3 linked regions of the Homo sapiens genome follow. The protein of the gene in region 2 binds, or shares a complex with, the protein of the main gene of each other region. Each region holds a gene or a part of one and is shown on either strand. Other genes may lie near its edges. A codon is read from its position in the direction of its gene.

What was found.
Region 1: the proteins of LRRC32 (region 2) and TGFB3 are in contact, whole or in part, in a cryo-EM structure (PDB 8VSB), measured with the Homo sapiens proteins. Residues at the interface, in NP_001122394.1 of Homo sapiens: Ala110, Ser135, Tyr137, Ser160, Val184, Met186, Asp187, Ile188, Asp190, Phe193, Leu202, Leu204, Arg206, Asn207, Ser208, Thr210, Cys211, Ile212, Ser213, Asp214, Phe215, Ser216, Leu217, Cys227, Asn228, Ser229, Lys254; in NP_001316868.1 of Homo sapiens: Leu24, Ser25, Thr26, Cys27, Thr28, Leu30, Pro347, Pro349, Tyr350, Leu351, Arg352, Thr357, His358, Val361, Leu364, Leu368, Ser375.
Region 3: the proteins of LRRC32 (region 2) and TGFB1 are in contact, whole or in part, in a cryo-EM structure (PDB 8VSC), measured with the Homo sapiens proteins. Residues at the interface, in NP_001122394.1 of Homo sapiens: Ser135, Tyr137, Glu158, Ser160, Thr162, Val184, Met186, Asp187, Ile188, Glu189, Asp190, Phe193, Leu202, Leu204, Arg206, Asn207, Ser208, Leu209, Thr210, Cys211, Ile212, Ser213, Asp214, Phe215, Ser216, Leu217, Leu223, Leu225, Cys227, Ser229; in NP_000651.3 of Homo sapiens: Leu30, Ser31, Thr32, Cys33, Lys34, Pro325 (codon at 2,530), Pro327 (codon at 2,524), Tyr328 (codon at 2,521), Ile329 (codon at 2,518), Trp330 (codon at 2,515), Ser331 (codon at 2,512), Leu332 (codon at 2,509), Thr334 (codon at 2,503), Gln335 (codon at 2,500), Tyr336 (codon at 2,497), Val339 (codon at 1,571), Leu342 (codon at 1,562), His346 (codon at 1,550), Ala353 (codon at 1,529), Pro354 (codon at 1,526).

What each region holds. Positions count from the first base shown.
Region 1 is NC_000014.9:75,971,807-75,979,481, forward strand, and holds part of TGFB3 (transforming growth factor beta-3 proprotein isoform 1 preproprotein), read right to left. Parts: intron 1-7,675. UniProt on the Homo sapiens protein: Transforming growth factor beta-3 proprotein: Precursor of the Latency-associated peptide (LAP) and Transforming growth factor beta-3 (TGF-beta-3) chains, which constitute the regulatory and active subunit of TGF-beta-3, respectively.
Region 2 is NC_000011.10:76,667,248-76,675,561, forward strand, and holds the start of LRRC32 (transforming growth factor beta activator LRRC32 isoform a precursor), read right to left. Parts: upstream 3,501-8,314; 5' UTR 3,367-3,500; exon of another isoform or gene 2,515-3,366; intron 1-2,514.
Region 3 is NC_000019.10:41,329,640-41,337,314, forward strand, and holds the end of TGFB1 (transforming growth factor beta-1 proprotein preproprotein), read right to left. Parts: intron 2,643-7,675; coding exon 2,489-2,642; intron 1,572-2,488; coding exon 1,413-1,571; 3' UTR 684-1,412; downstream 1-683. UniProt on the Homo sapiens protein: Transforming growth factor beta-1 proprotein: Precursor of the Latency-associated peptide (LAP) and Transforming growth factor beta-1 (TGF-beta-1) chains, which constitute the regulatory and active subunit of TGF-beta-1, respectively.

The sequences.
Region 1 (7,675 bases), on a different chromosome or scaffold from region 2:
GTCCCGCCTGCCACCTCCCTAGAGGCTTGAGGCCTCAGACCGCAAGGTGGAGATACGAGGAAGATTCTTGGTGGCCCTAGAATCACACACAGTCCTGAGCAAGGAGCAGTGTGGCCTCAGAGCTCCACAACATGGCACTAGACTGGCCAGTCAAATCTAATTGCCCCCTCCTCCCACTGCCTTGACATCTCAGTTCTGGTAAGTTTTCCAACCCGTTTTTCCTACTTTTTGAGAAAATACTGATTCTAGAAAGATATCAGCACCTAGTAGTTTACATATCTTACAGCTAGTTGATTTATTCGTGTGTTTGTTCATCTGGGCATTCATTCATTTATCAAAGATGTATTGAGCAGCTACTATATGCCAAGCATAGTGCTAACCTTGGGAAGCAAAACATGAGTAGACACAACCCCTGCCTTCAAGGGGATTAAAACCCATTTATGCCTGGTGTTCCATTATTGGAACGCTAAGCATGTAAGAGTTATTTATATCCTGCTGCTCAAGGTCAAGGCCAAGGTCTGATTTCAAAATTCAAAAAAGTGCAGCCTCAGGCTTATGGGTTAATATCTAAGGGGGGGTATTAATACATGGGCCCAAATAACAGGACTAGAGAGAAATAATAGGACAGAGTGCCCCGGAAGATGTCACAATGCAGGAGCACAGGTGAGGGGAGCGACAGGAAACCAGTGGTTTTCAGAGAAGTCCAGGAGTTGCTGCAGGAAATCAAAGGAGGGAAATGGCAAGGAGCACTTCACGGAAGGGGTGAAAATTGAGAGGATTTGAGGATGGGGAGGAAAGAAATGTTACATGGAGTGACTGCTGGAAGCAAAGGCAGGGAGGGGAGGAAATGCAAATGAGTAAGAGGGGCCCGAAACAGCAGGTGGGAGCCAGGTGAGAAAGGGCAAGATGATAGATTGGGGTCCACCTGTCAGACTAAAAGGTTAAATTTTAACCCATTAACAGTAGGGAGTCACTGAAAGTGTTTGAGCAGTGCAGTGACATCTCAACCTTGTGTTTTAGACCCAATAAAGCAGGGCTTATATAGCAAAGAGCCCACATCATGAGCCTGGCAGAAACACAGATGCTTCCTCTGACCAAGCTGGTGTGTCACCATTGGCTCCTTTCTCTTTCCTTGACAGCACGTGCTATGCCAGACGCTGTCACCTGCTGGCCTCTTCATCCCTGTCCACAAGATGTGGGCAGCGAATGCTCTTTCCCACCCCTCTGAGCCAGAGAAAGAGAAAGAGCCTGTCTTTTCTCTGCTCCTGTACACTTGACAGCCTCAAGGTCTGAGCAGTATTAACACCCAGAGAAAAACTTTCTGCACAAATGGTAACAATAGCCCGAAGTTGAAATTCAAGCTCATAGACCCAGATTCCACACATAATGGACATGGCTGGAATGAGCTTATAATCACCCCGAGGGGTTGTTGAGGAAGTCACAGACAAGGCAGGAAGGATCAGAGGCCTGGAAACAAGCAAATGCGCTACTGATCTTCAGGAAAGGATGAGTGAGTGTTTCTGGAAATTGCCATCTGGTGGGCCTGACGCTGGTTCTTAGAAAATTAATGGAACAGATGTTAGGAAAACAAATGTGTGAATGCTGTCTAATGAAGCCCTGATTAATAATTGGCTTTGAAAGAACAGATACTGCCAACGATTCCCTAAACCATTTCAGATAGAACCAAGGAGAGAAATCAGTGATAGTTAAGTAATGTGTAAGTTTACAAGTTTGTAATACTCTGAATGTGGATAAGCTACTTGCATTGGCAACCCTATCAAGGACAACAGAGCTGGGTTTTGAAGGAGCTGTTATTGATATGGCTTCAGTTACAATAGCACCTGCTGGGAGGATCACTTGAGCTCGGGAGGTCCAGATTGCAGTGAGCCAGGATTGTGCCACTGCACTCCAGCCTGGGCAACAGAGGGAGACTCTGTTTCAAGTAAATAAATAAATTAATAAAGTAAATAAATAACACAGCTCCAGTGACTACAAGAGGAATAAAGGGTAAGTCAGTGCAACATGCACCTTGCTGTAAAAAGAAGGGAGATGGGGCCGGGCACGGTGGCTCACGCCTGTAATCCCAGCACTTCGGGAAGCCGAGGTGGGCAGATCACGACATCAGGAGTTTGAGACCAGCCTGACCAACATGGTGAAACCCTGTCTCTACTAAAAATATGAAAATTAGCCAGGCCTGGTGGTGCGTGCCTGTAATCCCAGCTACTGAGGAGGTTGAGGCAGGAGAATCGCTTGAACCCAGGAGGCAGAGGTTGCAATGAGCTGAGGTGGTGCCATTGCACTCCAACCTGGGCAACAGAGTGAGACTCCATCTCAGAAAAAAAAGAAGGGAGATGGAAAATGGCACTTGCTGGTGAGACAGTCAGAGTGGGTCAAGGCAGTGGGAAGCCAGGAGATGGGGAAAGTTATGAGCTAAGAGAGTTCTCAGGACACCCTAGTGGCCGTCCTCTTTGGTTTCTTCCAGCCTATCAATCATAATCTGCTCCCCAGGATGAACACATCCTGGGGAGAATTTTAAGGTTTCAAGAAAGAGGTGGGAAAGGTCATTTTTCTATTACTGGGATATATAGATTTCCCATGATTAGAAGGGACATCAGGAGTCATGTGGCGCAACCCTCTTCAGAGGAAGAAATGGCTGTCTAGAGGGTCTTGGCCAGAGTCACTCAGAAGTTAGCTGACACAAGCAACTTGACACTAGCAAGCAAAGCTTAGGACACAATTGCTAGTGATTAAAAAAGAATTGGCACCTGGGCAACAAGGTGAAACCCCGTCTCTACTAAAAATACAAAAATTAGCCAGGCATGATGGTGCATGCTTGTAATCCTAGCTATTCAGGAGGCTGAGGCAGGAGAGTCACTTGAACCTGGGAGGTCGAGGTTGCAGTGAGCTGAGATTGTGTCACTGCACTCCAGCCTGGGCAACAGAGTGAGACTCCATCTCAAAAAAAAAAAAAAAAAGAAGAAGAAGAAGAAGAATTGGCAGCCAGGCATGGTGGCTCACGCCTGTAATCCCAGCCAGCACCTTGGGAGGCTGAGGTGGGTGGATTGCTTGAGCTCAGGTGTTTGAGACCAGCCTGGCCAACATGGTGAAACCCCATCTCTATAAAAAATACGAAAATTAGCTGGGCATGGTAGCACATGTCTGTTATTTCAGCTACTCGGGAGGCTGAGGCGGGAGGATTGCTTGAGCCCAGGAGTTCAAGATCAGCCTGGACAACATAGGGAGGACCTATCCCTATTATTTAAAATTAAAAATTTTAAAGGCCGAGAACAGTGGCTCATGCCTGTAATCCCAGCACTTTGGGAGGCCGAGGCAGGTGGATCACTGGAGGTCAGGAGTTCGAGACCAGCCTGGCCAACATGGCAAAACCCCATCTCTACTCCAAATACAAAAATTAGCTGGGTGTGGTGGTGGGCACCTGTAACCCCAGCTACTCGGGAGGCTGAGGCATGAGAATCACTTGAACCCAGAAGGCAGAAGCTACAGTGAGCCGAGATTGCACCAGTGCACTCCAGGCTGGGTGACAGAGTGAGACTCTGTCAAAAAAATTAAAATTAAAATTAATTAAAAAAAAGAATTGCCTGGGAGATCAAAGAAAATGTACATACAATCTTCTTGACAATCAAATTCACTGAATAATGATGTTTTAAGTAATCTGTGGAATGAATCATCGTATACATAAATAAGCAAAATGTAATAGCACCACCTTGTTTTGTCGAGTTTTTATTACTTCATGTGACCTTCTAACAACCCCTGAGAAGAATGAAAACATGTAAAATTTATCACTTGACAAATGAGAAAACTGAGCCTCAAAAAGTTAAATGTCTTTCCCAAGGTCACATAACTAGAAGGTGGTGGAGGTGGGGTTTGAACCCAGGTCTTCTGAACATACCTCATTTATTGAAGCAGAGACTCTTCAAGCTGGGAGGGATCTGGGAGATCATCTGGTGAAGATGGTTTCATCAACAAAATATGGCAAGATTCCACTAAATGGGCCTAGAGTGTCAACCTATGCCTCAGACAATGACCCACTGCAAACGAGTTTGTGGTTCTTAAGCCATGCCTCACAGAACACTAGTATTATTGAGAGCTGGACTAGGGGGTCCCACCTTTACAAATTAAATCTTGAGCAACTTTTTCCATTGCACAGAAAAAATATATATTGGTGAATGCCATTTTCTCTATTTTGTTTAACGGGGCAAAACATAAGCAAAGAATATTCATGTACAGTATGCATGGAAAAACCAGGAAATAGCTGACCATGTTTAGTTAACTGCCTTTTAAAATGTGTTCAGACACCTGGGTGGCTAGGTGTGCCTTTGCTTGTATATATCATTTCTGCTGGTTCTAGTGAAGGGACTATATTTATCAGTGTGGCTGTACTTCTCTACCCTGGCTGCACATTAGAATCACCTGGAAAGCTTTAAAAACAAATGATTCCTGGACCCATTCCCCAGCAGTTCTGACTACACTGGAGTGAGTGGGGTCCACGGCATATTTTTTTCAAGATCTCCAGATGATTCTAACGTGCAGCCAGGGTTGAGAACCACAGATTATAATGTGTTGCAAAGGGCACCATGGCTTCTAGATGTTCTGGAAGTTTGAGAAACCACTGCTTTAATGGTGTGAGCTTTCTATTGATTAACCGTTAAATGAATTAGACATGTTGTTTCGCTGATGGAACACCTTTAAAAATTTTGAGTTAGAAGCCCATAAACATTTTAAGCCCATGTTAAAAATTGGAACACTTCACAGAAAGATCCAGATTTTCTGCTTTTCTGGGACACGGGAAGAACTAATCAAGCTGGACCCACAGTCCTCAATGCAAAACCCAGCAAGAACTGAGGCTGGCTGCTGCTTTGGCTGGGCACGTGGGCTCCAGGTCCCCTCCCTCTCCCTGTCTCACACACCCTACTTTCTTCTTGACCCCAAGACCAAGTGTCCTGGTGCAGTTTATCATGACGCCGTGGCTTTTCTTCCAGATCATTTGCATTTCCTGCCGGGTCTCTGTAGGCACTTGTGTTTGCCATCCCTCTAAGAAAAGTTTCGCCCTAGTTCACTGACTCTTAAGCTTCAATGTGCTTAAGAATCCATAAGGAGCTTGTCGAAAATACAGGTTCCCCAAGACTCCACCCCCTCAAGATTCTGATTCTATAAGGGTGGGTGGGACCAGGGAATCTACATTTACCTCCAGCTTCCTCTGGACCACACTTGGAGAAGTGCTGACCTCTACTGTGCAGAGGGCATTGGCCCTTGGAGCAAATGATTTTCAGAATAATTCTCAGAATAAACAAAATCTACACTTAGCAGCTAGAGAACAAAGACTAAAATATAGAGTTTTCTCTTTGCTGAGAAACTCTGGGTTTGCTGGTTGTCTTAGCGCTGCCCTTGGCTGAAAACAACAAGTCTCCGAACAGAGACAGATAATTACAAGCCAGAAGATAAAATGACACCTACATTGGTGATACCTTTGTAAGAGGGATGACAACGGAAGTAAAAAAGCTGTGTCCTTTCCCATCACATGGGGTCAGAGAAACTCTCTACTCCCTCCCGACAGTAAAATCCTGGAGAATTAGAAAAAGGATTACAGAGTCTTGCCCATACTCCCCAATAGAGGCTCTGCTGATTCATCCCAGATGGAATTATAAAATTCTTTCAGCTGAAAAGGAGTTTGGAAATCATCTCTAACTTTACAGCTGGGGAAACTGAGGCTCAGAGAGGTCACTTTTACGTAGCTGCGGTTGCTTAACCTGCTTGAGACTCTTCATTAAATAAAGAAAACTCCTTCATTAAATTAGGGAGAACATTTGTGGCAGTATGAATCTCCCGGGCAAAAAAAAAAAAAAAAAAATGCAGAGCTAAGGAAGAACAAATCCAGTTATCATTGTGCAATCTGCCACCTGGGTTACTAAGATAATAACTCTGACCTCTCCTGCTTGGTCCAACACATGATTCATTTATGTTATAAATCAAAGTTCTACTGAACCCTAAAGGTTAAAGGAGGTTAAAGGTAACACTTACAACGTGTATTTTACATATAAATGAGTGCTTAACTACATGCGTCCTGCACACAGAATGTCTAGGTTAGGGTCCCTGCTCTTTTTGGACAAATTACTTAAGCAATCCAGGTCTCAGTTTCCTTATCTGTAAAACAGGGAGAAAAGGTTATTTAGGAAAAGGCCTTCCTCTCTGCTCTCACCTTGGTGCCCTTTCTCCTGCACTACTAAAAAGTATTTCCTCTTTCATTTTCCTCTCCAGGGACCTCTATCTCCTTGCCCTGGCTCCTACTGTCACTTTCCTTTGAATGCATGTTCACTGGGTCAGGGAAGTGGCCAGAAGTGAGGAAATATGGAACAGAACGTGATCTCATGACCTCCCAGCAGAGGCTCTGGCATTGAGACCCTGCTGTGCCCCACCACAGACCTGGTGTCACCCCTGTCTGCCCTCATGAGTTAAAGACAGGCTTCCTTCCCCCACCCCGCCCCGCCGCCTTGCAAGCCCCTGATGATGGCTCTCTGCTCCTGCTCAGCACCTGCCCACTGCCTTCTTTATAGTTAGTGTGCCTTGTGTGTCTGCCTCTCTGGGGTGGGCTCAGCACCCGACCAGCTGCAGGGCGGGCCCAGGTCCGTCTGCTCAGCCTCCAAGTCACCTCCAACAGCTGCAGAGTCTGCCTGCTTCCGGTTTGTACCTGTGAGCCTCATAGCATCGCACGTTGGCTCCTCCCCAGCATCCTGAACAGCATCCTGCTCACTGTGCTGGGTTGCCCCAGGCCAGACCATTGCTCCATAACCCCACATCCACCCATCTGTTGCAGTTGTAAGGTCTTGGTACTGCAGCCTGGAAGCTGCCCAGCATCTATGGGGCCCTGCCCGGGCTTTTCCCAAGGACATCTGCTATTTGTGCTTTGAGTCTGCACAAAATCAGTGTCCACTTGCACCTGCATGGCCTTGCCTCCACGTGGCTCATTCATTCTCAGCTCAGGATTCCGGGATGGGGGGGTCCTGGTGACTCAGAATGCTTCCTCCCTTGGACTCCTCCTGCTGACCCAGACCATGAAGGTCTGAGTCCTGCCCTCTTGCCCTGGACTCTCCTCACACCTCTCCTGCCGGCCTCAGATTTCGACCTTCCTCTGATGCTTGTGGTCACTATCTCCCGCGTTGGTGGGTTCCCAGGGAGTTGGAGCCTTGGCCATCGAGCTGCTAGGTGCCTCTGGGAACTGTGGGTCTCTGAGCCAGCCCCACCCAGAGACCCTGGGCAGGGAGTAGTAGCTCTGCATCGGCCTCCAGCCTCCGCCCCACATGGCAGCCACATCCTGAAGAAAGGCGCTCCAGGCAGCCACAGGAAGCTGGAGCGGGAACCCCTCGCCAGTAACCACAGGCTCCTCTGCCTGGCGTGGAGCCGTGAACGGGGCCTTTGCACCTCCAGCCAGAGCTGGTCCACCCATCGGTACCCACTCCTGTTCCTTCTCTCCAGCCAGGTTCCTTTCACCCCTTGCTGTGTGCTCTGCTGACCACCCTCCCCTGCCTGCCAGCTCCATCCCATGCCCTCCACCCCACTCCAGGAGCTGCCCACCTCCCAGGTGGGCCTGGGCTGAGGTAGTCAGGGCGGCGAGGACACCTGCTGGTAGGAAAAGCAAACAGAGCTGCTCCCGGAGTCT
Region 2 (8,314 bases):
GAGAGCTTAGGTACTATGCCCGAGGTCACACGGTGAACAAGCCACCGGCCCAGGTGAGTCTGGCTCCTGGGTCTGTGCCCTTCAAATCCACACTCCCAGGCCTCCCACAGTGGGTGCTCCCTCAGTGAGTGCTGAACCGCGATTCTGAAGGATGCTGCAGGAGAAAAGGCATTCACAGGGCATTTGAGGGCAGTGTCTTTGACTGTTGGAACCCGCTAGTGATGAGCTATGGACGAAGATGGCTGCTCTGAATCCCATCTCTCTTGAAGGCGCACAGACCACAGCCGGACCCGGTAAACCCTATTCCCTGGCTCCCCTCAGGGCCACAGGCGCTGCCCCTGCAGCTGCTCTGCTCTCACCTGCATTACAGGTTGTGCTTTCACAGGAAACTTTGTTCTGCTGTTTAAAAAGCAGAACGCCACCGCCCGTTAGAAAGTTAGCATATTCAGAACTGAGTGAAAACCCCTCCGGCAGGGCCTTCCAGGCCACTGGGGAGCATGCCCTGCCTGGCCAGCTCTGCTCTCCAGCCTGCTTCCCCGGTGTCCCCTCTCACATTCTGGGTTCTGGACACCTCATATTTCCTTCAGTTCCCTGAGCAGATTTTCACTGCCCCAAACCTTCACTTTCTCCCCTCTCCTCTTCTGCTAAAGACCTCCTCATCCTTGGGGTCCCAGCTTAGATGGGCCAAGAGGCCTTCTTTGGTTCCCCAAGTCTGGACTATGTCCTCCAGTCCTCCCAGAGCCCCTGAGCTTCCAGTGAGCACAGCACCAAGCCCTCCGTGGCTACTGGGCCCCACCCCCTCCCATGGGAAGTGCCCCTAGAGAGGGGCTCACCATCCTTTAAGATGCATCTCACAGCACACAACAGGTCAGCAGCGGACAGAAAACCGACACTAGGAGTCTCGGTGACATGGGGTCGTTACTGAGAGCAGTTCTCCTTGGCTCTCCCTTCACCTCTCTGCAACGTTCCCTTCACCCATCCATGCCGTCAGTGGGCTCTGACTGCTCTCCCTGAAAGAGACCCCGGATCTTCCTACTTCCCTCTTATCACTGCCACAGACCGAGACGCCACCCCAATCCTGGCCTTGACCACAGCACCCTGACCTCTTATAATCTGTCCTGTACCTAGCAGCCAGAGTGATAATATAAAATCATCTGTCAGATCCTAAACCTCTTCTGTTTGAAAATCTCCAAGAAAATCCAGGCTATCCACAGTCTCCTCTCTGACTCTTGCCCATTTTCCCTTCCCTCACCACATTCCAGCTTTCCTGCTGTTCCTTCAACACAGCAAATTCATTCCTGCCACAGGGCCTTTGCTCCTGCAGTTTCCTCTCCCTGAATGCTCTTCCTCAGCTCCTCACACATGTCATTGTTTTCCCACATTTATCATTTCCTCATCATTTATTTCTTATCATGTGGGAACAGGGGCCTACTAAGTAGGTACTCACTAAAGACTAGTGAACAAGTGGCAAAATCAGGGCAGAAGCTCAGCTGCAGTGGACTGAGTGGTGAGTGCCAGGTGAGGACAAGGAAGGGTCCTAGGCCCTTATTTCCCCTTCCTCTGCCAAACCCCACTCTATCCCCAAGGTGGCCCTGTGCACATCCAGAAGGGATCGTCCCTGCAGCACATGGGCACTCTGTCCTGGCATCTGACGGGAAGGGCCCCTCAGCTGTGGGCCCTCCTCAGTGGTGCCCAAGTACAGGGTGTAGCATTTAAAGACTACTCTCTCTCAAAAAGGAGGACGGTGTCACTTAGACCCAGGCTTGCATCCAAAGCCCACCACTCACCAGCTCTGCTCCCTAAGGTAAGTCCCTTCCTTTCTTGGTGCCCCAGTGTCCTGTCTGCAGGGTAGGCAGCTGGGTTCCAGTTCTGCCACTGGCCAACCCCAACTATTGTGATGATCAGGCAAAGAATGGTGGCGAAGGTGCCCTGCATCCTCACTGTCCTTCCCAGCTGACACAGTGACCCTCGCAGGGCTGAGCATCCCAGGTGAGGTGTGCTCAGTGGGGAGGCCCCAAGCCTGCAGACAAGTGGCCTGGGCAAGAGGAGGCAGGAGAGTCGGACTCTCAGGAGTCCAACTCAGAAAAGTGCCAAAGAATGTGTGTGTGTGTGTGTGTGTGTGTGTGTGTGTGTGTGTGTGAGAGAGAGAGAGAGAGTGAGAGAGAAAGAGCAGGGGTACGGGGGGCAATGACTACTACCACAATAAGCCCACCCCTACATTTAAGGATGTTAGTCTTCTAAGCACTTGACCTATATCATCTCATTTAATTCTCACAATCACCTATTGAGGAAATTACTGTAATTCCCATTTTACGGATGAGAAAACAGTTTCCGGAAAGTGAAGTGACTTACCCCCAGAGTTACCCAGCTCATAAGGGCTTTGGAGCTGGGATTTATCCAGTTCTACATGACCTGAATACTGTGTTTTCTCCAGCACATGCTGAGCCGACTGCCCCCAATAGAACTGTCTTTTTTTTGCCCATGAAGAAAAGGAGGCTCAGAGAAGTGACTTACCCAAAGTCACACAAGGAGAAAATAGCAGGGTCACGATCAGAATCCAGTTCATCTGTCTCCAAAGCAAATGTTCCCACTATACCAAATCAAGGTCTCCTTCCCTAAGCCCTGCCAACGACCCCTCACACGCAGGAGCAGGGCAGACTAGCTCACAGTCTGGCCTCTGAGGTCCTCTCTCCCTCCTCTCGGCCTCAGCTGACTTACTGGCAGAGTGGGGTCCTGGGAGAGCTGCTGCGGACGTTCCTGTCAAGCAGTGAATCACTAAGGGCAAGCCTCGTTCTGGAGACATGTGCATCCCACGGGGGAATTAGACCTTAACCCAAAGGAATGTGGCTGTGATGGCGGAATTTCAGGCAGCTCGGCGTGGGGGTGGGGGCCCCTCACATCTTACCACCCATGAAGAAGGCTGGGTTCAGAGCCCCTTGGAGAGCGGTGGGTGCCCCCTACCCCACTACGAGAAATGGGCAGGCCATCTAGTGCTGTGGGATGGGCAGCCCCACGCCTGGCTGGGATCGGAGCGTTGCAGGAAACCTGAATTCAAATTCCGGTTTGCCCTTGCCTAGCTGTGTGTTCCTGGGCAAGTCACGGTCTTCAGGCCATTGTTTTCCCAGCTGTCAAATGGGAAGGCCGGCCTCACCCCTTTGCGGGAAAGATCCGCCAAGACAGGAGCGCTGGGGAACTCCCAGGGACCGAGGGAGGGTCAGCCCCGGCTCCACGCGCGCAGTGGGGATGGCGGGAGGGGAGTGTTTGGGGGGCGTCCCTTGGGACCAGCCCCCGCCTTGCGCTCGCTAGAGGCGCGCGACAGTGCGCCCCCCGAGGGCCGGCCAGCCTCGCCTGCCCGGCGGCTCCTACCTGGCTCAGCGCGGCCGCAGCTCCTCTCCCGGGCAGTCTCGGCACATTTTGCGCAAACCCGCCCCCGGGTCCCACCCCGCGCCAGACCCCGGGGTCACGGCCCGAGGAGGAGCAGGCCGCTCAGCTGCCCCACCGGAGCCCCCGCGCTCCGGCTGCAATTTAAATACCTCTCCCGCCGGCCCGCCCCGCCACGCCCCCCTCTGGCGAGGCCGTGGGGTCCTAGCGCCTGGCCCCGTGCCTCGGTTTATCCGGAGCCGGCGGGGGCGGAGTGGGGTGGGGCGGCGAAGCATCTTCACCACCCTGGGACCTCGGCCGGGAAGGGGCGGGGGCCCAGTGTGGGGGGATGAGAGGGCGGGAGGGAGAGGGGTTGCAGAGGAAGCGCCGTGGGAGCGAGGCCCATCCCAGCGGCCGCCGCACGTGCAGTTCGCGGCCCCGCGGGGTCCGGAGGGGGGCGCGGTGGCTCTAGGAGCCGCAGGTCCACAGAGGAAATCCGGCCTGGCCCCGATTTCCCAGCTGCTGGCGCCGCCGCACTTAACGCGGGGGCAAACAGGCGAGGTGACGGCGGGGCTGAATGCGGAAGGAAATGACCCTTCGCTGGCCCTGGGGCGGCCGCGGAGGGGGTTCCCCGCACCAAGCCGTCCACTCTGGTGGGTCCTGGCAGGTCACTTTTCCTCTCCGGATTGTGCTCTAGTGTCTGGACCCGTACTCCTCCATCATCTGCGGGACCCTTCAACAGCCTGTGAAACGGCACCATCAAAGTCCTGTTTTCGGATGGAGAAGCTGAGGCTAGGGGTGGGGGCAGTGTGTACACATGAAAACCAATTGTCTGAGACTAGTAAGGTCCCTATTTATAGCTGGGGAACCTGAGGCTCAGAAAAGGTTAAATGGCGTGTCCAAAGTCAACACAGCTAATAAGAATCAGTGATTTGAGCCCAATCTGTTCATAAAGCTAAGTCTGATTCAGTTTGGGCATTATCTTGCCCGAATTTTTAAAGTACTGTGCAAATATGGGGTGGCGGTATTGTCATTTAGATTGGAGGTTGAAGCAGATCTTTCCCAAAGCCACCTCTCTTCTAGATGCCTTGACCCTACCAAATCACAGGTACCCTGCCTTGCTGCCTGTGGACTCTAGTATGCGGGTCCCTAGAAGAGAGGGGCCCTGGCTGTCCTCCAGGTCCTGGTTCCAAGTGTAGAAGGGGCCTCTTCCACAGTGTTTCTCTTCCCTGATCGTCACCAGCCCTGAGAGTGGGGCAGGGTGCCCCATTTTACATGCATGAAAGTGACCACCCAGGGCCTTGTGGCAAATCAGGGTAAGGCTGGGCTCAGAAGCGGGATTCCCTGAAGTCTCTACAGTTACTGCCTTTTCTTACCCCTGTTCAGTCCACTGTGGAGATGGATCTGGGGAGATGGGGTCAACCCAGAGAGGACAAGCCATGATAGCAGGTGCCATAGGGGCCTGACCTAGTCTTAGAAGAGGAAATCAGGGAAGGCTTCCCTAAGGAGGAGGCCTGAGCTGCAGTGAGGGGATGGGCAGGAGGTGCAGGTAAGGAATCTCTCAGCAGGGCCTGCGAAGGGTATCCAAACCTCTTTCCCTTCCCTCCCAGCCACCCAAGGCCTCAGATCTATGTCCACAGGGTCCTAGCTGGTCCATCCAGCCCCCTCTCTGGTCTCTAGTGCTCCATTTGGTCAAATGGAACCTCAGTGCCCCTATCTGTAAAGTGGGAAAGATAGTAGCTACTACTTGGAGTTGGTGCTAGAACTAAGTGCAATGGATCCAGCTGGAGCCTGCACCCAGTGGTTGTTAGGCAACTTCTCACTGCCTTTATTGTGGCAGTTGGTGGATACTCCTATATCCTGTGGGCTTCCTTTTCCAGGTCCCTGTCCAAGGGGCCAAATGTTCAGGAAAGTGCTTTGAAGCTGCCCTGCAGTATGAGCAGAGTGACTGGATCATTCGGGCAGTTCCTGGCCTTGTGTATCAGACCAGCTCCCAGCCATCCAGACCCAGGCTCGCTGAGCACTGCCTCACCCTTCCCGGAGCTGCTACCAAGCAGAAATCACTGGGCCATGGCAGAGCTTCTGCTAGGGCCCAGGAGGGCGGGGCTGGGGCTATGGTGGGCTGGGGGTGAGTGCCCCACCTCCCACTCCCCCGCCCCCAGAGGCTGTGGTTGTGGTTAGTCAGCTCGTGGGGTTCCACCTTACTCAGTGCCCGGATGGGGCTCCCCCACATTTGAGGCAGATGGGCAACCAAGCGTGCCCACCTGCTGCAGATGCCTCTGGGGACCAGGGGCTAAAAGCCGGGAAGCCCACAGGCTCAGCGCCCCTTCCTTCATCTCTTCACTTCTTTGGCAGTCATGTTGTTGTGTGACTTTTGGCAGGTTGCTCAGCCTTCCTGACCTTGGTTTGCTGACCTGCAAAGTGAAACTAATTACAGTACCGGGTGTATGAGGATGGCCTGTAATGACACGTGTGAAGTTCCTGGTCGCGGGGGCCTTTGCTCAGTAAACATGACCTCTCTCCTCTGGTGGGCCCAGGACAGTTGCTGAATAAAAATGCCCAATGCCTACTTTTTTGGAGCTCCCAGGCCAGATGAGAGACAGATGAGAGCACAGAGGATGATTGAGTCCAGAGGCCTTGAAGGCCAAGTCTAGGAGGCAGAGCTTGAGTCTGCAGGAGGAGGAGTGGGTGGAAACTGAGCAGACTCAGGCTTGCCTTGCAGCCATGTGGAGGGTCTTTTAAAGGCCACCAAGTCCAACTTCCCATCCAGTGTCACTTAGCTTCTGCTGGCACACCTCCAGAAATGGGGAGTTCTCCTGGGCAGCCCATCAGCAGACAGCTCAGTCTTCATGGTGTTGATATTTTTGTGGAAATGCTTCCATTCCTTCATGCATTGTCAGTGAAAATATAAGAGATGCATCTCTTCCTGTGTCCTCGGGACTACCATTCTGTAATGAAAAAACCCACTCGGGCACCAAGTCAGGCTCAAAGCTCCCTGGGAGGATTTCACCTCAGGCCAGATTGAAACCTGAGGGTCCTACGCAGGAGCAAGTGGCCCAGAAAGGTGATGATGTGCACATCCTGTGTGACCTTGGACAAGCTGCTAAAACTCTCTGAGCCTTGCTGTCCTGATCTAACTGTAGAGCCAGAGTGGAAAGGACCATGGCACCCTAGACTGACAATTTAGTCTCCACTGCTGTTTGCTGAACCCTCACTGTGGGTCAGTCCTTCATCTCATGTGGCAAATGAGAGTAAAGACAGCCATAGACAGCCTTCCAGTTAGGTGTCTTTATTCTCAATGACTGACCAGGAAACTCAGAGACCTTTATTCTCAATTACTGACCAGGCTCAGAGAGGTTAAGCAACTGCCTAAAGTCACACAGCACAGCTATGGAGCCAGTAATTGAACCGAGGTCTTCTGATTTTCAGGCCAGGTCTCAGTGCAGAGATGTGGCTGTCCTCACTCCCTGCTTCTGCCCAGCACCCACATGGGCCCCTGAGAGTCTGGGAGTTCCCTCACGAGCCCCTTCTGGGCCCTGCCTTCTAGGGCAGAACCCTGGGTTCCCCAGTTCTTCCCCTGACTCCCCTCCCTTTCTCCCTAGGGCAAATGGACTCAGGCCACACCAGCTCTAGGCCACCTCCTGGAGGGGCAGGAGGATGTTATGAATGGCCCAGTGGTGGGGAGTAGCTGGTCTCTTGAGTGGGAATATCAAGGGCTTGCAGGACCAGGCCTGGGGCCAGGTTCTTTACTTATCCCCTGCCCATAGCCATCTGACGAGGGGAGGCCTATCTCTGCCCCCCTTTTACAGAAGAGAGATGAAGCCTGCAGGGACTCTATGACTTGCTGGTGGTCACACAGCAGACACAGTGGGCATGCCCATCCAAGTCCTCAGGCTCCAAGTCCTCATTCGTGGCCAGAGAATGAGGACTTACTCTGCGGGTTTTCTGTTCTTGATGGAGGCACAAGGCACCCCCTCATGGCAGCACTTAGCGTTACCAAGGCAGGGGAAGCAGGTGCTGGTGAGACCCCATATACCCCGCAGCCACCACACGAAAGGCTCCTGGTTCAGAGTCCCGTCAGTGACTACTGTGACTGAAGGGACTGGAGGCTCCCAGAGGCCCCAAGGGAGTTGGGGGGATGGACCAGGCAGGGCAGGATCAGAAGTGTCTCCACAACCTGATGCTGTGCTGAGCTGTGGACCATGAAACCGCAGCTTTCTGCAGCACCAGGCTGCTGGGAACCCGAGGTCTTGTGCCTTTGAGCCATGCAACTTTTTCCTCTGTTTTAACTGCTTAAAGGTTAAACCTGATGTACCCTTTTCTTGATGATCCAGTGTTTATCACTTTGGGCTTTGGTTATGGTCTGTGAGGTCACAAAGTGTCATCTCCAAGGTACTAAAAACAGCAACGAGCCAAGGCCAGGATGAGGTGGCTGCAAACACATGAGCTCCTAAAAGCACCACTCACAGGAGCCGGGTGCTGGCATAGAGGAGGAGAGGTGGCCATAAATTTCAGAGAATCTTCCCAGCCTCCTCTAATCCCATGCCAAGAAATATGACAGATTCTAGGCCCAGAGAGGGTGAGGACGTGGCCCGAGGTCACACAGTGGGCCGAAGGTCTTATTCTCCTCCTCCACTTTCTTCCACAGGCCTCACGTGGGGTGCTCCTGGGTTCACACAGCAACCTCTTCAGAGGTCTAGCCCAGTTCTTCTCAAGCTTTGGCAAGCATCAGAATCCCTGAGGACTGGCTAAATAGATTGCCAGGCCCCATCCCAGAGAGTCTGGTTCAGTAGGTCAGAGGTGGGGCCCGGAATCTGCACCTCCAGCAAACCCTCAGTGGCGCTGATGCTGCCAGTCCTCAGACCACCCTTTGAGACGCACTGCTCCAGGGAAGTACCGTGATGATGAGGGGCAGGCAGGCTCTGCGGTGGGGCTCGGGGCAGGCCCTGGCCCC
Region 3 (7,675 bases), on a different chromosome or scaffold from region 2:
CGCCACCATGGCTAATTTTTGTATTTTTAGTAGAGACTGGGTTTCACCATGTTGGTCAGGCTGGTCTCAAACTCCTGACCTCGTGATCTGCCCGCCTTGGCCTCCCAAAGTGCTGGGATTACAGGCGTGAGCCACTGCGCCCAGCCTTTTTTTGTATTTTAGTAGAGACAGGGTTTCACCATGTGGTCCAGGCTGGTCTCAAACTCCTGACCTCAAGTGATCCCCCTGCCTCAGCCTCCCAAAGTGCTGGGATTGCAGGTGTGAGCCACCGTGCCCAGTCTTTTTTTTTTTTTTTTTTTAAAGATGCAGTCTTGGCTGGGTGCGCTGGCTCATGCTTGTAATCTCAGCATTTTGGGAGGCCGAGGCGGGCGGATCACCTCAGGTCAGAAGTTCGAGACCAGCCTGAACAACATGGTGAAACTTCGTCTCTACTAAAAAAAAATACAAAATTAGCCGAGCATGGTGGCGCATGCCTGTAATCCCAGCTACCCAGCTACTTGGGAGGCTGAGGCAGGAGAATCGCTTAAACCCGGGAGGCAGAGGTTGTGGTGAGCCAAGATCTCGACATTGCACTCCAGCCTGGGCAACAAGAGTGAAAATCCGTCTCAAAAAAAAAACATAAAAAAAAGATGGAGTCTTGCTTTGTCACCCAGGCTGGCATACAGTGGCACAGTCAGGGCTCACTGCAGCCTTGACCTCCCAGGATCAAGTGATCCTCCCACCTTAGCCTCCAGAGTAGCTGGGACCACAGGTGTACATTTTTTAAAAGTGTTTTGTAGAGATAGGGTCTCACTATGTTACCCAGGCTGGTCTCAAATGCCTGGATTCAAGTAATCCTCCCATCTCTGCCTCCCAAAAGTGCTAGGATTACAGGCGTGAGCCACCCCGCCTGGCCTGAACTACTATCTTTTATTGTCTTCTTCACTATCCCCCACTAAAGCAGGTTCCTGGTGGGCAGGAACTCCTCCCTTAACCTCTCTGGGCTTGTTTCCTCACCTTTAAAATGGGTGTTATCAGAGTCCCTGCATCTCAGAGTGTTGCTATGGTGACTGAATGAGTTCATTAATGTAAGGCACTTCAACAGTGCCCAAGGTGCTCAATAAATAGATCTAACTACAGTAGTGTTCCCCACTGGTCCCCTGTGCCTTGATGCCGGGCAAAGGAATAGTGCAGACAGGCAGGAGGAGGCAGAGAGGGAGAGAGAGGGAGTGGGAGTGGGGGAACGTCAGGGATGGAGACCCCAGGCAGGCGCCCAATGACACAGAGATCCGCAGTCCTCTCTCCATCTTTAATGGGGCCCCAGGTGGGCTTGGGGCACGGGTGTCCTTAAATACAGCCCCCATGGGCAAGGCAGCGGGGGCGGGGCGGGGTGGGGCCGGGCCTGCCGGGGCGGGGCGGGGCGGGGCGGGACCTCAGCTGCACTTGCAGGAGCGCACGATCATGTTGGACAGCTGCTCCACCTTGGGCTTGCGGCCCACGTAGTACACGATGGGCAGCGGCTCCAGCGCCTGCGGCACGCAGCACGGCGCCGCCGAGGCGCCCGGGTTATGCTGGTTGTACAGGGCCAGGACCTGCGGGCGGCGGGCGGGGTCAGGGCTCAGGGCTCGTGGAGGGAGGAAAACGGCCCTCCACTGCCCCATCCCCCACCCGCTACCGCGCCAGCCTCTCTCACTTCGTCTCTCCCCGCATCCCCTCTTCCCATCTCCAATTCGGTCTCTCTTATCTTCTAACATCCTATCTTATTCTGTCTCTCCCCACCTGTCTGATTTTCTTTTTGTTTTGAGACTGGGTCTCGCTCTGCCACCCAGGCTGGAGTATAGTGGCACGATCATGGCTCGCTGCAGCCTCAACCTCCTGAGCGCAAGCCATCCTCCCGCCTCAGCCTCCGGAGTAGCTCCAACCACAGGCAAGCGCCACCACTCCTAGCTTTTTTTTTTTTTTTTTTTTTTTTTTTGGTAGAGATGGGATCTCAGTCTGCTGCCTGGGCTACTCTCGAACTCCTGGGCTCAAGCGATCCTCCTGCTTCAGCGTCCCAAAGTGTTGGTATTACCATCGTGAGCCGCCGCGCCCGCCTGATTTTCTTTCTCAGTCTCTGTCCCTCCTCATCTTCGCCTCTTGCCTTGTTGTGTATCTGTCTTTGTCTCTCCTTGGCCTAACTCTGTGTCTGTATCTGTCTCTCTCATTTTGTCTCTCCATTTCTGCGTTTTTCCTTCCATCTCCCTGTCTCTCTTCTCCCCTTCACCCCCATCCCTCTGTTACTTCACTCTGTGGGTCTTCATAGCTCATCTCCCTCTGGCCCCTGCTCAGAGCCCCTCTCTAGCTTCCTGCCTCTCTCCCCATCTCTTTATTCATTCCCCTCCCCACCCCATCCCTCTCTTTCTCCCCATCCTGCCAACTCACCTCTCTGACTTTACTTCTCTTTCTCTCTCCTCTTCCTCCGTCCTGGCTCCCCCCAAGCGCATCTCGTAGCCCGGTGGGCCAGACGTACCTTGCTGTACTGCGTGTCCAGGCTCCAAATGTAGGGGCAGGGCCCGAGGCAGAAGTTGGCATGGTAGCCCTTGGGCTCGTGGATCCACTTCCAGCCGAGGTCCTTGCGGAAGTCAATGTACAGCTGCCGCACGCAGCAGTTCTTCTCCGTGGAGCTGCAGGCAGGAGAGACGCGTCAGGGGCAGGGAGGGGCTACCACCATAGAAGCCACATGCCCCTCCTCCCCAGGTGCGTGTGTCACCCTAGGTTGCCCCCCCAGCCCTATCTCCATCTGGGTCTCCCTTGCACCCACTGTGTTAATAACAACACAAATAGTCATGATAATCACTAACACAGATTAAGCACTTCCTCCAGTGCTAAGAGCAATGTAATAATTAATTTCACGCAATGCTTAAGACAAGCCTGTAAGAAGCCAGATGACCATCCACGGGGGGGCTAAATAAATCATGGCATGCCACACCCTGGAACATACAAAATAACACAGCTCCATGTAAACTGATCTGCTCTATTTGTGCAACAAATGTTTATTGAACTACTACTGTGTGCTGGGCTGGGATCTACTGTGGACTGAGGACAAATGAAACAGATAGAAATAGGCTAGGCATGGTGGCTCACACCTTTAATCCCAGCACTTTGGGAGGATGAAGTGGGAGGATCGCTGGAGTCGAGGAGTTCGAGGTTGCAGTGAACTATGATAACACCACTGCATGCCAGCCTGGACAACAAAGTGCAAGACCCTGTCTCTACAAAATTTTTTTTCAATTTTTTTAAAAAAGAGACAGAAATCTCTGCCCTCCATGGGCATGCTATAAATTGTCTTGTCACTCCTCTGCTCTGAACCTGGCTCCATCTCACGGCAAATGCCCAAGTCCTCACCGTGAGCCACAAGGTGCTATCAAATCTGGCTGATCTCAACTCCCTCTCTCACGCCTACTCCACTCCAGCCACACTGGCGTCCTGTCTGTTCCTCAGACAGTCTTATTTCGGGGCTCCTGCATCTGCTGTTCCCTCTGCCTGCCTTGCTAGTCCCACAGATACCCACTCCAGCTTGTTCCTTCACTTCATTTCTTCTTTTTTTTTCTATTTTTTTTTTTTTTTTTTTTTGAGACAGAGTCTCACTCTGTCTGCCAGGCTGGAGTGCAGTGGCATGATCTCGGCTCACTGCAACCTCCGCCTCCCAGGTTCAAGCGATTCTCCTGCCTCAGCCTTCCGAGTAGCTGGGATTACAGGCGTGTGCCACCATGCCCGGCTAATTTTTTTGTCTTTTTAGTAGAGACAGGGTTTCACCATGTTGGCCAGGCTGGTCTCGAACTCCTGACCTTGTGATCCGCCCACCTCAGCCTCCCAAAGTGCTGGTATTACAGACCTGAGCCACTGCATCTGGCCTATTTATTCTTTTTAATTTGTTATTCTTTTTAGAGACACGGTCTCACTATGTTGCTGAGGCTGGTGTCGAACTTGGGCTCAAACGATCCGCACGCCTCGGCCTCCCAAAGCATTGGGATTACTGGCATGAGCCACCACACCTGGCCCCTTCACTTCATTTAAACCTTAGCTCAAATGTCCTTCACTCAGGGACCCTTAACTCCTAAAGCAGTGTCTGGAATGCAGTAGGTACTAGTAAATATCAGTTACATGACTGAACATCACCTCCTCAGAGATACCTTTCTGAGCCATCCTTTCCAAAATATCCAAGTGACTGTTAGTTCCATTTAGTGCAATACGGTATTGCAGTTATGCAAGAAAATATAAAAATGTCTGCATTTGAAATGGGGCAAAATCTTAATTACCGATGACGCTGGATGAGAGTTTACGGGCATTCATTATCTTCATTGCTTTTGTATACATTTGAAATTTTCCATAATAAAGGAATTTAAATCAGAATAGGAAAAATAACAGTTCCCAATATCTATTACTCTCTGCCTGCCTTCTTCTGGTTTATTTTACTTCTTAGAACTGTCAAAGAGGCCGGGTGCAGTGGCTCACGCCTGTAATCCCAGCACTTTGGGAGGCCAAGGCGGGTGGATCACCTGAGATCAGGAGATTGAGACCAGCCTGACCAACATGGCGAAACCCCGTCTCTACTAAAAATACAAAAATTAGCTGGGTGTGGCGGTGCTTGTCTGTAATCCCAGCTACTCAGGAGGCTGAGGCACAAGAATCTGCTTGAACCCAAGAAGCAGAGGTTGCAGTGAGCCAAGATCGTGCCACTGCACTCCACCCAGGGCAACAGGGTGAGACTCTGTCTTGAAAAGAAAAGAAAAAAGAAAGAAAAGAAAAGAAAAAGTTGACAATGCCTTTTTTTTTTTTTTTTTTTTTTGAGACAGAGTCTTGCTCCGTCACCCAGGCTGGAGTGCAGTGGTGCAATCTTGGCTCACTGCAACCTCTGCTCATAGATTGGTGGGGCCAGCCAGGCACGGTGGCTCACGCCTGTCATCCCGGCACTTTGGGAGGCTAGGGCAGGCAGACTTGAGGACCCTGTCTTTACTAAAAATTCAAAAATTAGCTGGACCTGGTGGCGGGCACCTGTAATCCCAGCTACTGGGGAGTCTGAGGCAGGAGAATCGCTTGAACCCAACTTCAAGTGGCACCGGATAACCTAGAGGCAAGATAAAGCCTTTCCAAGAGCCACAGAAGCCTGAGAAGGAAGTCAAGAAACTGAGATCCCTGTGAACTCAGCCCGTACCACCCAATTTGGTTGGACCTCAGTTTCCTCATCTGTTCAGAGGTAGGAGCTACTAGATAAAATAAGGTGTTAAGCTGAGGGCCAAGGGGCCATCATGGGCAGGCTTAGGGAGGGCCATGAGTGCCTGAGATCATATGCACATGTGTGTATGTATGCATGTATTTCTGGGAAAAAGAGTCCTGGCTTTCACTTTCTCACAGGAAGTTCTGAACTCACAAAAGGGGAAGAACTAGTGTCCGGAATCTTTTTTTTTTTTTGAGATGGAGTTTCCCTCCTGTTGCCCAGGCTGGAGTGCGATGGTGTGATCTCAGCTCACTGCAACCTCCGTCTCCCGGGTTCAAGCAATTCTCCTGCCTCAGCCTCTCAAGTACCTGGGATTACAGGCATGTGCCACCATGCCTGGCTAATTTTTTGTATTTTTAGTAGAGGCTGGGTTTCACCATGTTGGTCAGGCTGGTCTCAAACTCCTGACCTCAGGTGACCCACCCACCTCGGCCTCCCAAAGTGCTGGGATTACAGGCATGAGCCACCGCACCCGGCTCAGAATCATCTTTAATATGCAGTTCAACCCTAGCTGGGGTTCTGAGATCCTAGGATTTGAACAATCTGTGATACTGTTATCCAAGTCAGCAGCTCTCCACGTGAGCTCCCAGGACCAGCGGCAGCATCACCTGGGAACTATGGGAAATGCAGATTCTCAGGTGGCACCCCAGGCCACTGAAATCAGAAATTGTGTGCAGGACTGGGAACAACAGTCCGTGTTGAACAAGCCGTCTAGGTGATCCTCTGACTCATTTTTTCAGCACACATTCGGGGCCTACCCTGCACCGGGCCTTGGGATACCCACAGCCCTTGCCCTTGCCAAGCCTCTTCCGTCCAGTCTCTCAAGACCTAGGCCAGGTGCAGTGACTCACGCCTGTAATCTCAGCACTTTGGGAAGCCAAGACCGGTGAATCGCTTGAGCCCAAGGAGTTTAAGACCAGCCTGGGGAGCATAGTGAGACCCTGTCGCTACAAAACTTTTTATAAATAAAAGACCCAACAGAGACTGTTTGTTGAGTCAAAGATCTACTTAGGGCCCCAGGGGAGCCCAGAGGCCTCACATCCATCTTGGATGTTGGAGAAAGGGGTTAGGAAGGAGGTAGTGTTCGAGCTGCCTTAAGAACAAATTTTCCTATGAAAGTTTTTTTTTTTTTTTTTTGAGATGGAGTCTTGCTCTGTTGCCCCAGGCTGGAGTGCAGTGGTGCAATCTTGGCTCACTGCAACCTCCATGTCCCAAGTTCAAGCAATTCTCCTGGCTCAGCCTCCCAAGTAGCTGGGATTACAGGCACACACCACCATACCCAGCTAATTTTTCTGTATTTTTAGTAGAGACAGGGTTTCACCATGTTGGACAGGCTGGTCTCGAACTCCTGACCTCATGTGATCCACCCGCCTCAGCCTTCCAAAGTGCTGGGATTACAGGTGTGAGCCACCGCGTCCAGCTGGAAAGTTTCAGATGTACACAAAAGCAGCTTCAACAATGACCAACTCATGGCCAATTTCCATTGCATCTCTACCCCTATCCACTATCTCTTTTTTTTTTTTTTTTGAGACAGGATCTCACTCTGTCACCCAGGCTGGAGTGCAGTGGTGCAATCACAGCTCACTGTGGCCTCCAGCTCCTGGGGCTCAAGCCAACCTCCCACCTCAGCCTCCTGAGTAGCTGGGACAAAAGGTACACACCACCAGGCCCAGCTACTTTTCATATTTTTTTTTTTGGGAGATGGGGTTTCACCATATTGCCCAGGCTGGTCTCCAACTCTTAGGCTCAAGCAATCCTCCTGCCTTGGCCTCCCAAAGTGGTGGGATTATAGCTGTGAGCCACTGCAGCCAGCCGACAATGGTTTATCTCAAAGCACATGCAATCCACCGTGTTGCTTCATCCATAAATATTTCAAATGTATCTCTAATTAAGACTACTTTAAAACACAGTCACAATACCATGTAAGAAAATTAACAATTCCTTGATATCTAGAGGAATATCTAGACAGAGTTCACATTTACCCAACTGTCTCATAAATATCTTTTTTTTTTAAGCCTGTGTAAATAAGGATTCAAGTAAGGTCTACACATTGCAATTGGTTGATATGTCTCTTAGGATTTTTTTTTTTTTTTAATTTTTGAGATGGAGTCTCACTCTGTCACCCAGGATGCAGTGAAGTGGTGCAATCTCGGGTCACTGCAACCTGTGCCTCCCAGGTTCAAGTGATTCTCCTGCCTCAGTCTCCCAAGTAGCTAAGACTACAGGCGCCTGCCACCATACCCTGCTAATTTTTGTATTTTTAATTATTTATTTATTTTTTTGAGACGGGAGTCTCACTCTTGTTGCCCAGGCTGGAGTGCAATGGCGCGACCTCGGCTCACTGCAACCTCCACTTCCTGGGTTCAAGCAGTTCTCCTGCCTCAGCCTCAAGAGTAGCTGGGATTACAGGGCCCGCCACCACGCCTGGCTCATTTTTGA